2 separate regions of the Homo sapiens genome follow, and region 1 is linked to region 2. The links come from fine-mapping of genetic effects on gene expression. Tissue or cell type: skeletal muscle. Region 2 holds a variant in brackets; the other region holds the start of a gene. All regions are shown on one strand. Distances are from middle to middle.

Region 1 (8,000 bases), 150 kb after region 2:
ACGCCACTGCACTCCAGCCTGGGTGACAGAGCGAGACTCCGTCTCAAAAAAAAAAAAAAAAAAAAAAAAGACAGGGGAATTACAAAGGAGAAAGAGTAATTCACACAGAGCCGGCTGTGCGGGAGACCGGAGTTTTATTATTACTTAAATCGGTTCTCCCCAGTCATGTGGGGATCAGAGTTCTTAAATATAATTTGGCAGGTAGGGGCTTGGAAAGTGGAAAATGCTGATTGGTCAGATTGGAGATGGAATCATAGGAGGTGGAAGTTAGGTATTCTTAATGTCTTCTGTTCCTGGGTGCGATGGTAGAACTGGTTGGGCCAGATTACTGGTCTGGCTGGTGTCAGCTGATCCATCGGGTGCAGGGTCTGCAGAATATCTCAAGCACTGACTTTAGGTTTTACAATAGTGATGTTACCCCAGGAGCAATTTGGGGAGGACCCAAAGGCTGCATGACCCCTAAATTGTAATTTCTAATCTTATAGCTACTTTGCCAGTCCTGCAAAGGCAGACTGGACCCCAGGCAAGAAGAAGGGTCTTTTTGGGAAAGGGCTGTTATAAATTTTGTTTCAGAGTCAAACCATGAACTGAATTCCTTCCCAAAGTTAGTTCAGCCTACGCCCAGGAGTGAACAAGGACAGCTTAAGGGTTAGAAGCAAGACAGAATCAGTTAGGTCTGATTTGTTCCGCTGTCATAATTTCCTGAGTTACAAATTTGCAAAGGCGGTTTCACAGGGGCCGTTCTGTTGAGGAGGGGTGTGCCTCCTGAGGCTGGCTGAGGGCAGAGGTGGAAGGTTTGGAGGCTAGAAATGAGAGTTCCCAGGTAATGGCTTCTATTTTCTCCAAAAAGTAGTAGAGAGATCTTTGCTGGGGGAGAGGGGCGGTGGAATGGGGGCTTGAGAAGACTGGAGGCTTTGTTTTGTTTTGTTTTGTTTTGTTTTGTTGAGACAGAATCTCACTCTGTCACCCAGGCTGTAGTGCAGTGGCGTGATCTCAGGTCACTGCAACTCCCACCTCCTAGGTTCAAGTGATTCTTCTGCCTCAGAATCCCAAGTGGCTGGGGCTACAGGCATGTGCCACCACACCTGGCTAATTTTTTTTTGTATTATTACTATTTTTTTTTTTTTGAGACGGAGTTTCGCCTTTGTTGCCCAGGCTGGAATGCAATGGCGCGATCTCGGCTCACTGCAACCTCTGCCCCCCTGGGTTCAAGTGATTCTCCTGCCTCAGCCTCCTGAGTAGCTGGGATTACAGACACACGCCACCATGCCCAGCTAATTTTGTGTTTTTAGTACAGACGGGGTTTCTTCATGTTGGTCAGGCTGGTCTTGAGCTGCCGACCTCAGGTGATCCACTTGCCTCAGCCTCCCAAAGTGCTGGGATTACAGGTGTGAGCCACTGCCCCGGCCTTTTTTTGTATTTTTAATAGAGACAGGGTTTCACTGTGTTTCCTAGGCTGGTCTCGAACTCCTGGCCTCAAGTGATCTGCCCACCTCAGCCTCCCGAAGTCCTGGGATTACAGGCATGAGCCACCGTGCCTCAATGACTAGAAGCATTTGAAATGCCCTGAGGGGAGTGGGCAGGGGACACAGGGAAACAGGATTCTTGGGCTGGGTGAGAGCCCAAGTGAGGGTAGAGACCCTGAGTTTGCAGTTGCCCCAACCTGCCCCAAAACAAGATGGCTATTGGGTTTTCCAGGCAGGTGTGATGGGAAAACTCTGAGGCAAGAAAGTTAGTAACAGGCTGGACTCCTGGGGAGGGTGGGAGGACTTGGGGGAAGAGGAGGACTTGAGGCCAGGGAAGAATCAGGAAGCCCCCTGTCTTAGTCCGTTTGGGCTGCTATAACAACATATCTTAGACTGCATAATGTATAAACAACAGAAATTTATCAGCCGGGTGCAGTGGCTCACACCTGTAATCCCAGCATTTTGGGAGGCTGAGGCAGCTGGATCACCTGAGGTCAGGAATTCGAGACCAGCCTGACCAACGTAGTGAAAACCCATCTCTACTAAAAATACAAAAAATTAGCCAAGCATAGTGGTGTGTGGCTGTAATCCCAGCTACTCAGGAGACTGAAGCAGGAGAATTGCTTGAACCACCCCCCAACCCCTGGCCAAAAAAAAAAAAGAAATTTATTGCTAATAGTTCTGGGGGGTTGGGAGGTCCAAGGTCAAGGCGTCAGCAGATTTGGTGTCTGGTAAGGGCCCGTTCCTCATACCTGGGGCCTTCTAGCTGTGTCTTCATGTGGCAGAAGGGGTTGACAAGCTCCCCAGGCCTCTTTTTTCTTTTTGAGACGGAGTCTCGCTCTGTTGCCAGGCTAGAGTACAGTGGCATGATCTTGGCTCACTGCAACCTCTGCCTCCTGGGTTCAAGCGATTCTCTTGCCTCAGCCTCCTGAGTAGCTGGGACTACAGGCACGCGACACCACACCCAGCTGATTTTTGTATTTTTAGTAAAGATGGGGTTTCACTATGTTGGCCAGGATGGTCTTGATCTCTTGACCTCATGATCCACCCCCCTCAGCCTCCCAAAGTGTTGGGATTACAGGCGTGAGCCACCGCATCCGGCCCCCAGGCCTCTTTTATAAGGGCACTAGCCGCATTCAGGTGGGGCAGCCCACCCAATCAACTCCCAAAGGCCCCGCCTGTTTTTTTTTTTGTTTTTTGTTTTTTGTTTTTTTTTTTTTGAGACAGAAGTCTCGCTCCGTCGCCCAGGCTGGAGTGCAGTGGCGCGATCTCGGCTCGCTACAAGCTCCGCCTCCTGGGTTCACGCCATTCTCCTGCCTCAGCCTCCTGAGTAGCTGGGACTACAGGCGCCCGCCACCACGCCCGGCTATTTTTTTCTATTTTTTAGTAGAGACAGGGTTTCGCCGTGTTAGCCAGGATGGTCTTGATCTCCTGACCTCGTGATCCGCCCGCCTCCGCCTCCCAAAGTGCTGGGATTACAAGCGCGAGCCACCGCGCCGTGCCGGCCCCGCTTCTTAATACCCTGACATTAACATTAGGTTTTCAACATGTGAGTTTTGAGGGTCACGGACATTCTGACCATAGCACCCTTGGACCAATAGGACAGGCAGAGGCTGTGGAATGACTCTGGGGTGGGTGAAGTAGGGAACACTGCTTTGCTTTAGAAAGGGAATCCCTCTTCTGGGGCTGGGAGTGGCTTCCCGCAGGGGACTACCGTGCAAGGGAGAAGAAATCTGGCATCTCTCCAGAATGCTTCTCATTGCAGGGCCGCTGGCCTAGAAATGGCCTCAAATGGAAGCTGCCACCCGATCCTGGTGGAGGCTTTGAGCTAGGCTAGAGATCAGGACTCCAGGGTTCAGTGCGCACGTGCTGCCCCTGCACTAGGTAAGTTCCTTCCTCTATGGACCTTCAGCCCTCCCCTTGCAGTGGAGATAGTGTGCACAGCCCTGGCTCCCCTCCCTGACCCTGGGAAAAGGCTGAAGGGAGACCCCGTGCTGTTCCTAGGAAAGGAGATCTTCCCAGCGGTGGGAGGGTGAAGGGGGAGCCTCCCTCTCCTCCAGTCCTGTCTTCCCAGCCCCAGGGCGGAGCTCTTCCTGTGTGTAAGCCTCCACGCGGGAAAAGCTGCCAGTGCATTCATTCTCTCGAGGAATCCCTGCAAACCCTCCCAGATGGGTGGCGTTATCAGCCCGATTTTACCCGAGAGGCTCCTGAGGGAAAGGGACCTGTCTGAGGTTGGTGACAGACACCCAGTTCGATCCCATCTGTGGTGCCGCCAGGCCGCTCCCTTTTCTGCTCCTCTCCCGAGAGGCTGCAGAGTTCTTTCCCTCCCAGCAGGGTCCTAAGGACCCCGGCGGTGCTCCAGGGGAGCCAACATCCCCTGCTTTGGAGGACGGACGGGTCGGGTCGCAGTGAGCAGCTCCGTGGTGTCCCCTAGTTCTACACTCAGACCAAGAGAGGGCTGTGAGGGCTGTGCTCTTTTTTTTTTTTTCTTTTTGAGACGGAGTCTCGGTCTGTCATCCAGGCTGTAGTGCAGTGGCGCGATCTCGGCTCACTGCAACCTCCGCCTCCCGGGTTCAAGCGATTCTCCTGCCTCAGCCTCCCAAGTAGCTGGGAGTACAGGCACCCGCCACGACGCCCGGCTAATTTTTGTATTTTTAGTACAGATGGGATTTCACCATCTTGGCCAGGCTGGTCTTGAACTGATCTCAGGTGATCCTCCCGCCTCGGTCTCCCAAAGTGCCGGGATTACAGGCGTGAGCTACCACGCCCGGCCTGGCTGTGCTCTCTTAAAGGGCCGAAGCAATGCGGGTGCTGGCGACCGACGCAAGGAGGTGACGCACAGGGGACTTAAGGAGCGGACCGCCGCGGGAGGACGCGCCCAGCTCAGGGGGACTCCCTCTGCGCCCCCCACGCTGGGTCTCCGGCCCACGCGTGGCCCGGCTGGTCTGCGGAGCTAGCGCCAGGGCCGCCAGAGGGCGCCCGGGGCGGAGGATGGGGCGGGAGCCGGGGAAGCCCGGGAGGTGGTGGCCGAGTGGGCGCCGCCCCTCTGGGTCTGCGGCTCAGGTCGAAGAGTCGGCTGCGTGGGCCGGGGAATCCGGATTCCGGGGGTTCAACGCCCAGGGGTTCCATGAGCCCCTACTGTTCTCGGACGCCCGGCCGGCCCCGACGCACTCGTCCTAGCACCCCTCCCCTGTCCGGTCCTCCGGCCCCTCCGCCGTCGCCCCTCCGGGGTCCAGCCGGGCGGGGCTGCTCCAGGGTCGCGGCTGGCGCGGGTCCCCGGGCCCTGGCCCTCCGGTGCCCCGGGCCAAGGAGAGAAAACTTGAGCATCCACGCACAGGGGTGGGGAGCAGGATCCCACTCTGAGGGTGCACTGCCCCGCCCTCTCCGGGTCTGCCTCGGCCCCGCCCGGGCCCCAGGCCCCGCCCCCTCCCCTCGGCCGGCCCGAGAGCTCCGGGGGCCGCTGCAGCCGCCCAAGCGCCCGCCATGCGCGCTGCCCGCGCCGCGCCGCTGCTCCAGCTGCTGCTCCTGCTGGGGCCGTGGCTGGAGGCTGCGGGCGTTGCGGAGTCGCCGCTGCCCGCCGTGGTCCTTGCCATCCTGGCCCGCAATGCCGAACACTCGCTGCCCCACTACCTGGGCGCTCTGGAGCGGCTGGACTACCCCCGGGCCAGGATGGCCCTCTGGTGAGAGACCCGGGCATTGGCACCGAGTGGGCACCTAACCCCCAGCTTCGCAGATGGCCCCCGCCCCCGGCGGCCCTGTCTGCTCGCTCCCTGCCCAGACACCACCTAGACAGGCCCCTCCCCTCACAGACGGCCCTGCCAGCCCGAGCCGCCAGAGAGGACCCCGAGCCCCCTGCTGGGAGACGACAGACCTCTGAGGCCACAGGCCGACGCGGGACACCCACCCCTCCTTCTGGTCCCCTACTCCTTCCTCTTGGGGCCTTCCCTGGGTGTAGGTTGGGCCCAGCCAGCCCTTTTCACCCCAGCCTTCAGGGCCCAGCTCAACCCCAGTGGGACCTGTGGTTGGCTGGATTTGAAGAGGAGCAGACAGGAACCTCTGAAGTCCACTGGGGCCCAACGTGGCAGGGATCGACCACGCTGGAGGCTTCCGGGCACAGGTTGGGGGTGCCATCAGCACTGGGCTCCGGGCTGTGCAGGGGAGTCAGACCGGCCCCCCCACCGCCCCCGTGCTGGGGCCAGCTCTCTTGGTAGATCTTGGTAGAGGGGCGGGATCCTGTCAGCCAAGGGCAGTCCCCCTTCCTGGAGCCTCTCCCCTCTGGCATCTCTGTACCCCCAGGGCACTGGGATCGAAGGCCACAACCCCTGGTCTGTAGACACCAGAACAGGGAGGAGTCCCTGGCTGAGGTTGGGGGTAAACTGAGAAAAATGACAAGCCACCCTCTTCAACACACCACAGTTGGGCTGGGGGGGTGGAGCCCTGGCCTGGGGAGGCCGCCCACAATTACCACAGTTTGGGAGTTTGTTAGTTCCCACCCCTGTAAGACTTGACACGTAGTCTTCATTTCTGGGGAATTGGCTTAAAGGGGCAGCATCACCCAAAACCTGGGCACTTGGCTAAACCCCCACCTCTGTTATGGGGGCCCCTTCCCCAGGAGAGGGGAGGCTGTGCCCCATGACAGCAGAGCTTGGACCCATCTGCATTCTTAGGGACGCTTAGAGCATGGTTTGGTCCTTATTACAACCTGGGGGTGGAGGAAAGCAGCAGCTCTTCTGTCTAGTCCCCATTCAGAGAGGGACAGGGGCTGGCCTGTGGTCACACAGCCACAGGTCACATAGGTAGGTATCTGCCCACCTAACGAAGGTAACCAGGGAATGCACCAGGTGTGATCCTTAAAGTCGAGGTACTTTTCATCTTTCAAAATGCATTCGTTGGCCAGGTGTGGTGGCTCACGCCTGTAATTTCAGCACTTTGGGAGGCCGAAGTGGGCAGATCACCTGAGGTGAGGAGTTCAAGACCAGCCTGGCTAACATGGTGAAACCCCATCTCTACTAAACAAACAAAAATTAGCCGGGCATGGTGGTGCACACCTGTAATCCCAGGTACTCAGGAGGCTGAGGCAGGAGAATCACTTGAACCCGGGAGGCGGAGGTTGCAGTGAGTCGAGATCATACCACTGCACTACAGCCTGGGCGACAGAGCAAGATTCCATCTCAAAAAAAATGCATTATTCTTCTCTTATCTTTGTCCATGACATAAGCAGGACAGCTTAAGTTATAGAGGGAGGACGTGAAGCCCAGAGAAAGATGGGACTTGCCTGAGGTCACACAGCAGGTCACAGAACTGTGGTGGGGACCTGGCTGTGCTGCCTCCAGCCTCTCTGCTGTAGCACACCTACCCTTCACTGTTCCAAGGAGAGCTCGACCTCAAAGGTGTTAGTGCTTTGGGGTCAAGGCTGCCTTGGGGTTCAATCCTGTGGCTGTGCCCCCTCAGCCTTTTTTCTTCCCGTCCCCAGGTGTGCCACGGACCACAATGTGGACAACACCACAGAGATGCTGCAGGAGTGGCTGGCGGCTGTGGGCGATGACTATGCTGCTGTGGTCTGGAGGCCTGAGGGCGAGCCCAGGTGGTGATCTGAGGGGAAGGGTGCTGGGGAAGATGGAGAACAGCTGCAGCCCAGAGAGGAAAAGGGACAGCCCAGAGCCACAGCCTCCAAGCCAGGGCTCTGTCCACTGCCCTGCAGAGAGGGAGGGGCATGTACCCCATGGGAACATCTCACCTCTATCCCCTCAGGTTCTACCCAGATGAAGAGGGTCCCAAGCACTGGACCAAAGAAAGGCACCAGTTTCTGATGGAGCTGAAGCAGGAAGCCCTCACCTTTGCCAGGAACTGGGGGGCCGACTATATCCTGGTGAGGAAGTCTGGCTAGAATCGGGCTTCTGAAAGGCGGTAGTATCCGTCCCTGATAGAAATCTGGGTATAGGCTGGGTGCAGTGGCTCACGCCTATAATCCTAGCACTTTGGGAGGCCAAGGCAGGTGGATCACCTGAGGTCAGAAGTTCGAGACCAGCCTGGCCAACATGGTGATACCCCATCTCTACTAAAAATACAATAATTAGCTGGGCGTGGTCGCAGGCGCCTGTAATTCCAGCTGCTTGGGAGGCTGAGGCATGAGAATGGCATGAACCTGGGAGGTAGAGGTTGCACTGAGCTGAAATCATGCCACTGCATTCCAGCCTGGGTGACAAGAGTGAAACTCAGTCTCAAAAAAAAAAAAAAAAGAAAAAGAAATCTGAATGTGACTGACCCACCCGAAGGCTGGATCCTTCGGCAGGCTATCTGGGCCAGAGCCCAGACCAGATGTTCAGATTGGATCCCTATGTTAAAAGCTCAGACTAGGTACTAAGCCTGGACCCCTCAGATAGATCCCGTTGTATACACTTTACTGAGCCTCGATTTCTGGGCTAGAGCCCAGGGTATAAATTGAGCCTGGATCTCTGAACTAGAGCTCAGAGTAGGTGTTTGGATCCATTTTCTAAGCCAGATCCCAGATAAAGGTCTTAGATCAGTAACTCA
Region 2 (8,245 bases):
AACTCCTTGTTGTACTGTAAATACAGAAAGGTTAAGTCAGGATATAGCAGGCAGAGGAGCAGCTGGCCAACCAGTAACAACAGCTACAGTAAGTACTCCACAGTAACACTTCCTCACTCTCAATCACACTTGACATGTTTTCAAGGCATTTCCAAGCCCATGGTCTCATTTTGTTGTTGCTGTTGTTGTTTTTGAGACAGAGTCTCCCTCTGTCACCCAGGCTGAAGTGCAGTGGTGAGATCTCAGCTCACAACCTCTGCCTCCCTGGTCCAAGTGACTCTCCTGCCTCAGCCTCCTGAGTAGCTGGGACTATAGGCGTGCACCACCATGTCCGGCTAATTTGTTTTGTTTTGTTTTTTCTGAGATGGAGTCTCTGTTGCCCAGGCTGGAGTGCAGTGGCGCAATTTCGGCTCACTGCAAGCTCCGCCTCCCGGGTTCATGCCATTCTCCTGCTTCAGCCTCCTAAGTAGCTGGGACTACAGGCCCCCGCCACCACACCCGGCTAATTTTTTTGTATTTTTAGTAGAGACGAGGTTTCACTGTGTTAGCAAGGATGGTCTCGATCTCCTGACCTTGTGATCCGCCCGTCTCAGCCTCCCAAAGTGCTGGGATTACAGGCGTGAGCCACCATGCCTGGCCTAATTTTTTTATTTTTAATAGAGAGGGGGTTTCAACATGTTGGCCAGGCTGGTCTTGACTCCTGACCTCAAGTGATCCGCCCGCCTCAACTTCCCAAAGTGTTGGGATTACGGCACCCGGCTGGTCTCATTTGTTTTTAAAAAAACTTGGTAAGGGTGGCCGGGTGCGGTGGCTCACGCCTGTAATCCTGGCACTTTGGGAGGCCGAGGGGGACGGATTACGAGATCAGGGGATCGAGACCATCCTGGCTAACACGGTGAAACCCCATCTCTACTAAAAAAAAAAAAAATACAAAAAATTAGCCAGGCGTGGTGGCAGGTGCCTGTAGTCCCAGCTACTCGGGAGGCTGAGGCAGGAGAATGGCATGAACCCGGGAGACAGAGCTTGCAGTGAGCCGAGATGGTGCCACTGCACTCCAGCCTGGGCAACAGAGTGAGACTCCGTCTCAAAAAAAAAGGACTTGGTAAGGGTGGAAGGAACAGGGAGAGAGAGCGAATTTATGTATGTACGTATGTATGTATATATGTATTTATTTGAGATGGAGTCTCCATCTGTCACCCAGGCTGGAGTGCAGTGGCGCCATCTTGGCTCACTGCAACCTCTGCCTCCCGGGTTCATGTGATTCTCCTGCCTCAGGCTCCTGAGTACCTAGGATTACAGGCATGCGCCATCATGCCTGGCTAATTTTTGTTATTATTTATTTATTTATTTATTTATTTATTTATTTTCAGACAGAGTCTCCCTCTGTCACCCAGGCTGGAGGGCAGTGGCACGATCTCAGCTCACCGCAACTTCCGCCCCCGGGTTCAAGCAATTCTCCTGCCTCAGCCTCCCAAGTAGCTGCAATTACAGGGGCACGCCACCACACCTGGCTAATTTTTTGCATTTTTAGTAGACACAGGGTTTTGCTATGTTGGTCAGGCTGGTCTCGAACTCCTGACCTCAGTTGACCCACCTGCCTCGGCCTCCCAAAGTGCTGGGATTACAGGCATGAGCCACCACACCTGGCCAAGATCGAATTTACAGCTGGCTAACAGAGGCCCAGAGAGATCAGATAATATTGCTATTGTTATTATCATTATTACTACCACTGTTTGAACCTTTATTGAATGCTTCACCAGGCACCATGCTAACAATCCCATTTAATCCTCATAACCACCACATGAGACAGTTACTATTATTACCTCTATTTTGTAGATGGACAACACGGAATATTAGAGGTTAAGTGCTTGCCTAAGATCACTTAGACAGAGCTCGGATTTGAACACCCAGGTATATCTGACTCTCTAAGCTCATTTGTTCCCCGAGGGTGGGGGCACAAATAGGAAGGGGGAAATTATCTTTTGTTCAGTTTTTGAAAGGATGATATATTCAGATAGTCCAAAACTCCGAAAGGGCAGAAGGGAAATATCTTCCAGCCGTGCTGTTCCTCTCTCCTGAGTTTGTTATGAATCCATGCAGACACGTTTTATGTATATTGTCATAGTACATAGGTACACATACACACACACGTTCCCTCTCTCTACACAAATGGTAACATACTAAAGATACTCTTCTGTACCTTCACAGTACAAGTACCATATTCCCCCACCTAGGACTTGACCAAGGCCACAGCCAGGTAACGGCACAGCGGGCACTTGGCCTCCGAGCTCTGCGTCCAGTGTTCACTCCCCACAGTGCCCCCAAACTCACCCACAGCAGCTGACTCAGCCCCAGGATGCCTCTAGCAACCACACACAAAAGCAGTGATAAATGGCCCATGCTGCCTTCTAGGCAGGACAGTCAACCCTGCAGAAGGGACCTTTAGGCTCACTCCTCCATCTGGGAAGCCAGTATGCCAGGGGACGGGGCAGGCAGTTGGACTCACCCTGTCTGCCTTCTTCTGCTGCGTGGAGACAGCAGAGAGAGCCCGCTCCAACTCTCCCACACGCCGCCGGGAATACTGCAGGCGGCTGGCCAGATCTTCAGACTCTCCTGGAATGAGAGAGGTTGAGATGGGGCCCAAAGGACTCCCCCTAAAGGCCTGTCAAAGTGCCAGGTTGAAGGATGATGGGGTGCCCAGATTCCCACCTTCTTTCTGCCTGGCAGCATGCTGAGTGTGAGCCAGGGCTGTCTGTAACTCAGCTTTCTCTGATACGAGGATCCCTATGGTCTGAATGTGAACCTTTGGGAGGAAACCCAAGCAAGTGCTGAAAAAGAAGGAAAGAAACATTCTCCAGAGGACAGGACGGAACTTCACACCCTCCACTCACCTGTAACTGCTCCCTTAGGGCTCCCTGCTTTTGGTGGCATTCTTTCTTTTCCTATAGGAAGAGGAAGACAGAGCTCTTACGAGGGGGAGGCAGAGACGGCACAGCAAGGGACATGCCCCCAGAATGCCACCAATGTCCCAGGACAGGCCCACCCATGGGACCAGGTTATCAGGGACCCTGTGGGGATGGGGTGGAATCTGGGGGGGTGAGCCTTCTTCCCCAGGCTGGGAGTGGGTGAGACGAGACTGAGGCCTCTACATTTGAATGCCCCCCAAACCCAGCAGTCATGTTGTGAGCAAACAAAGAAATCACGTTACTTCTTCCAACTGATCCGTAATTTCTTGGTTCTGTTGTTTCTGTGGGGAAGAGTCAAAGGAAGGTGACTGAGGGTGGCCCCCTCAACTCTATTCCCCAGACCAGGAACGGGTAGGCAGGGGCCAGGAATGGATTTTAAAGGCAAAGTTCTCAGACCCAATGGGAACACGAACTGGTAAACTCTCCTCAGGCTCTCAAGGAAAGGGGATTTGTGTCTTTGTTGGTTTTTGCCCACAGCCACAGAACTGAAAGTCTGAATCTCGATTCTCTTGAAAGGACAGTAACATAAACCTCTAGAGATGGAGTGTGAGAAAAGCCCACCCTCTGCCAGTTTGTGATTTAGAAAGGTGTAATCATTCAACAAACATTTGCTGAGCACACACAGGCCAGGTACGGTTCTTAATAGCAGGGATACCAGACAGAAAAAGACAGACAGGAGCCCTTGGCCCTGAGGTTTACATTCTAATGGGCCTTTAAATCTTGGACTCTCAGAGCTAAGAGACCTTTGATACTCTCTAACTCTACCTCCTCAGGAAATGCAAGCCCAAGGAGGAGAGGTGGCTTGTCCCAAATCAAAGAGCAAATTAAGGACTGAGTCAGGGCAGAAATACAGGGCTCCTGACAACCAGTCAGGCTAGCGCTTCCCCAAGAGGCAACAACCCCAGGGCGTGTGTGGCAAGGACTCGAGCAGGGGTGTCTAGAGAAGAGAGAGTAGGCAAAGAGGGCAGCAACAGAAGAGCCATGCTGCATGCTCCGTGCTCTGGGGTCCCTCCAGCTGAGGCCTGGGCCCCCCAGCTCCCCATTCGCCCTTGGCACCAGGGGCCCCCTGCCCCTTTCTTCAGGGTCCCAAGGGGAAACTGGAGCCCAGGATTAGCAGCATGGAATCAGGGGACCCCACTGGACTCTTACCAATTTCTCTATCGTGATATTGAGTTGTTTGTTTGTTACATAGCTGGAGTCCAGGGCTACCGCTAGCTGTTGGTACCGGCTCTGAGGCGCATGCAGAGAGGAGGAGTTGGAGGAGGATTGGGGGGAGAGGTAGAGAGAGCAATCATTAGGGTTGGGGGGTGTGTGGGCTGTCTCAGCTGGCAGAGGGGCACCCAGCCCCCGCTGTGGGAGGAGGTTGGAGGGCTGGCCTGCAGGGTCACTGGGCCACGGCCCAGGGCCTCTTACCTCCAGATCCTTCAGGTTAGCAGACGATGCAGGGCCCTCCCCATTGACACATGTCGCAGACTATAAGAGACGAGAGTGCACATGGAGATGTTCTGTCCCCTCAGTGTCTAAGCCCTCTAACTTCGTTTCTTCCCCAGCAATTGGCAACATTTTCTTTTCTAACTTGGACCCTCTGTCCCGTAACCCCTTTGTGCCAACTTCTCTCATGGTTCTTATTTCCCCACCATCCTTTCCTCCCGAGCAGCTCTCATCCAGTGCTTCTGCAGCAGGATACAATGATGCAACCAGTCATGGGGTCCAACTCCTTCATGTGCACAACTTCAAGGGAGAAGGCTCAGGGAAAAGGCGACTTCCTTAACATTGCCCAGCACATTGGCTGGTCCCAGGATCTTCCCTCTCTCTTGTGAATCCCTGCTTCAGTTTCTATCATAGTTCCCTTCCCCCC[A/C]CCCCGCTCTCGGCCTCAGTTCCTGAGGTACCTCACAAACAAGACCATTGAGCTGTTGGGAGAGTTGTCGCAGGCTCTCGGTTGATGAGAAAGTCCTAGGGATGGAGACACAGGGGTCAGGGGTGCAGGTGGCTCAATGGGAAAGAAGGTCATGGGCAGTGGCCTCCCTGACTCTCTCAGCCTAGAGACTGCTGCCCCAACAGGAGACACTCACTTGGTTTCATCCATGAGATTAGGGACATTGTCAGCATCATGATTCTGTTTGGGAAGAAACGTGTGAGATGGTCATTCAATTTCTGGTAAGAATCACCCAGGATGGGGTGAGTCAAGCTCCCAAACTCATTCTAACAATCTTCAATCTCCCCAGGCCTCAAGGAAAAAAGCCCAGTCTGAGCCTTCCCCCGGCCCGGTCCCCAGGAAGGGCCCTTGACCCTAGGGAACAAGCTGCCTGTGAAAGGAGAAGATAATGCATAATAGGTACAGGAGGGCAGTGGGCAGAGGGGGAGGAGGCACGAACCTGAGATGCCGCCATGCTAGTGAGACTGGCACCAGGGGAAGGGACACCGCCAGGTAACACGGTGTCATCAGATGGTTGTAGAGTAGCAGCATTGTCCTTGGGTGTCTGTCACAGAACAGAGCAGGGGGTTAGGGGGCCATGCGGGAGAGGTGCCTCAGTACTATGAACACAAGGGTGTGGAACAGGTAGGACAGGTGTTGCTGCAGTCAGAGTGACAGTCACACATGCTAGGAGCCACTCAGGGGTGTGGATTGGTTGCCCAGGCCTTGGGCTGCTAGGCAGCATTTCAGATGGCCAAAGCTCAAAGCAGGGGCTGCACGGCCTCCTTCATGAACACGAGGACCTCGCTCTCCCTGGAGCTCAGCAAAAGACAGCAGCAGGCTCTGACCTGTGGCAGCCACAGCAGGCAGGAGGAAGGTGTGCCAAAGTCAGGGAGGAGAAAGGCACTGTTCTTCCAGAAGGCCAGTCTGTGCTGCAGAGTGACCCTCACTGGGCCCCTACTGGGCAGAGGATGGTGATGAGGAAGTAGTTGTCTGGGCAATGCACAATGTAGCTATCTGCCTGTCTCCTCCTTTCCTCCCTTCCCTTCTCCCCTGCAGTGGCACAATCATAGTTCACTGCAGCTTCCACCTCCTGGGCTCAAGCAATGCTCCCACCTCAGCCTCCCTAGTAGCTGAGATTATAGGTGCACACTACCATGCTCAGCTAATTTCTATAGAAACATGGTCTTGCCATCTTGCCCAGGCTGGTCTCAAAGTCCTGGGCTCAAGTGATCCACCTTGGTCTCCCAAAATGTTGAGATTACAGGTGTGAGCCATTGCACTTGGCCTACTGGCTGTGTTTCTGATTCAGGCCTTTTCAGGGGGAAAAAAAAAAAGCTGCCCAACTAGAAGACTCTCTCCAACTCTCTGGAGGTAAAAAGAGGATAAACCATGGCCAACACCCCCACCCCGACCTCTTACCTCCAAAAACATCTACCCAGCCAAGAAACCACCCAAGAAAACAGAGGTAAGACATCTTCCCTGTGGCTCTTGGCAACTTGGAAGTTGTAGGGCCTCTTTCCTGGGAATAGTACCTGAGGACAATCCTAGGATTCAGAACTTGGGGTCATGTGGAGCCTCTCCCTTGCCCCCAACTGGACCTACCTGCTTGATCAGAGCCCCACCCAGCCTCTCTCCAGGCTCTGACCTTACTCTTCGCCCAAGCCTCTGGTTCTAGAGATCTTCTAATATCTGACAAGCCAGATGGGCAGACAGTGGAAAAAGCTGGCTGACCAGCTAAGCTGGACAAGAGAAAAACACCAGGGAGCCAGGGCCTGGCCACGGAAGCTGGGTCTGGGAGAAGTGACTACACCTCTCTCCAGGGAAAGGACTGCGCGCTCACTGGACCCTTCAGCCCTGGCTTCTGAAAACCCAAATCTGCTTCCCTCCTTAGAGCAAGTGCTGCAGAGGCTGGTGGAACTGAAGATGAGCCAAGCTGCCTTTGCATCTTTGCAAGTTTACTGTGACCATGGAACCTGGTGTTTCCTTGACAATGCCTACAACTGAATCTAATAGGTCAGAGCAAGGGTTCAGTTGCTGGCCAGGCATTAGCCTTGAGGGAAGGCTGGCACTCCTAGCAATGGACCCTGCTAGGCTTTAGGGCCCTCCTGGCATCTTCGGTTCCCACTGATCTCTAGGATTAGACACAAGAATGCTCAGAGGAAGGGAATTTTTTTTTTTTTTTTTTTTTGAGATGGGAGTCTCACTCTGTCGCCCAGGCTGGAGTGTAGTGGCGAGATCTCCACTCACTGCAACCTCCGCCTCCTGAGTTCGAGATTCTCCTGCTTCAGCCTCCCAAGCAGCTGGGATTATAGGTGCACGCTACCACGCCCAGCTAATTTTTGTATTTTTAGTAGAGATGGGGTTTCACCATGTTGGCCAGGCTGCTCTCGAACTCCTGACCTCAGGTGATCCACCCTCCTCAGTCTCCCAAAGTGCTGGGATTACAGGCATGAGCTACTGCACTTGGCTGAAAAAGCATTTTTCTGAGGACTTTCTGACACACATAGCATGATTATTTTGTGAGCAACCAAGTTATTTCATTATTTTAAGTCTTGTAGCCAAGATGGAGTTTTTAAAAAAGCCTACTCTCCTCAAAATGTCCCATCCCATTAAGATATTTTTTCTCTCTCCATTATTCCCTACTTCTGGAAATGTTATCAGCTCCGCTCAGGATACTACGATCACAGGCCTGCATTCCTGGAGTAGAAAACTTACATGGTAATAAAAATGAGAAATTAAAAAAAAACAAAACCTACATTGGAAACAGTTACGGATATAGAGAAGGTATAAAAACAGCAAGGGGCTGGGCATGGTGGCTCACACATGTAATCTCAGCACTTTGGGAGGCCAAGGCAGGTGAATCACTTGAGGCCAGGAGTTCGAAACCAGCCTGAGCAACATGGCAAGACCCCATCTCTATTAAAAATACAAAAAAAATGGCCGGGCGTGATGGTGCAACATCTGTAATCCCAGCTACTTGGGAGGCTGAGGCATGAAAATCACTTGAACCCGGGAGGGGGAGGTTGCAGTGAGCCAAGATCACACCACTGCACTCCAGGAGAAAGAGCAAGACTCTTTCTCAAAAACAAAAACAAAACAGCAAGAAGGAAATACGGGGATCTAGGCCTTTGTTTCCAGAATAGAGGGACCTGGGCTGGCACAGAATCTCAGAGCATTAGGAAACAGGCTGAAGACCCCCTAATCCACTGGACCATTGGCAGAGCAAAAGCCAAATGCTTTTGGCTGCAGGTCACCTCTAAGCCTGTGCTCCCCAGCCGTACCACTCAGCGTCTCCTCTGAGCTGGCAAGGTGAGTCACAGCACCTGGACAGACCTGATCAACTGGAGGGTAACAGGTATGA

What was found. PIP is the estimated chance that this variant, and not a neighbour inherited with it, causes the effect.
Region 1: it holds the start of CERCAM, and the variant in region 2 is fine-mapped to the expression of CERCAM in skeletal muscle (GTEx, PIP 0.95).

Annotation. Positions count from the first base shown.
Region 1 is chr9:128,415,929-128,423,928 of GRCh38, forward strand. CERCAM (cerebral endothelial cell adhesion molecule) reads left to right here and starts at 4,929. Exons shown (of 13, transcript NM_016174.5): 1 at 4,929-5,146; 2 at 6,940-7,050; 3 at 7,218-7,335. The coding sequence starts at 4,950. RefSeq lists a silencer at 4,315-5,214 and an enhancer at 5,475-5,664.
Region 2 is chr9:128,263,079-128,271,323 of GRCh38, forward strand. GOLGA2 (golgin A2) reads right to left here. Exons shown (of 27, transcript NM_001366244.2): 4 at 5,342-5,446; 5 at 5,039-5,082; 6 at 4,856-4,919; 7 at 4,380-4,439; 8 at 4,116-4,196; 9 at 3,209-3,247; 10 at 2,892-2,942; 11 at 2,710-2,803; 12 at 2,507-2,613; 13 at 1-14. Among named protein-coding and RNA genes, the nearest start is that of GOLGA2, 8.8 kb to the right of the region's middle. The variant A/C (reference allele first, on the strand shown) is at 4,825.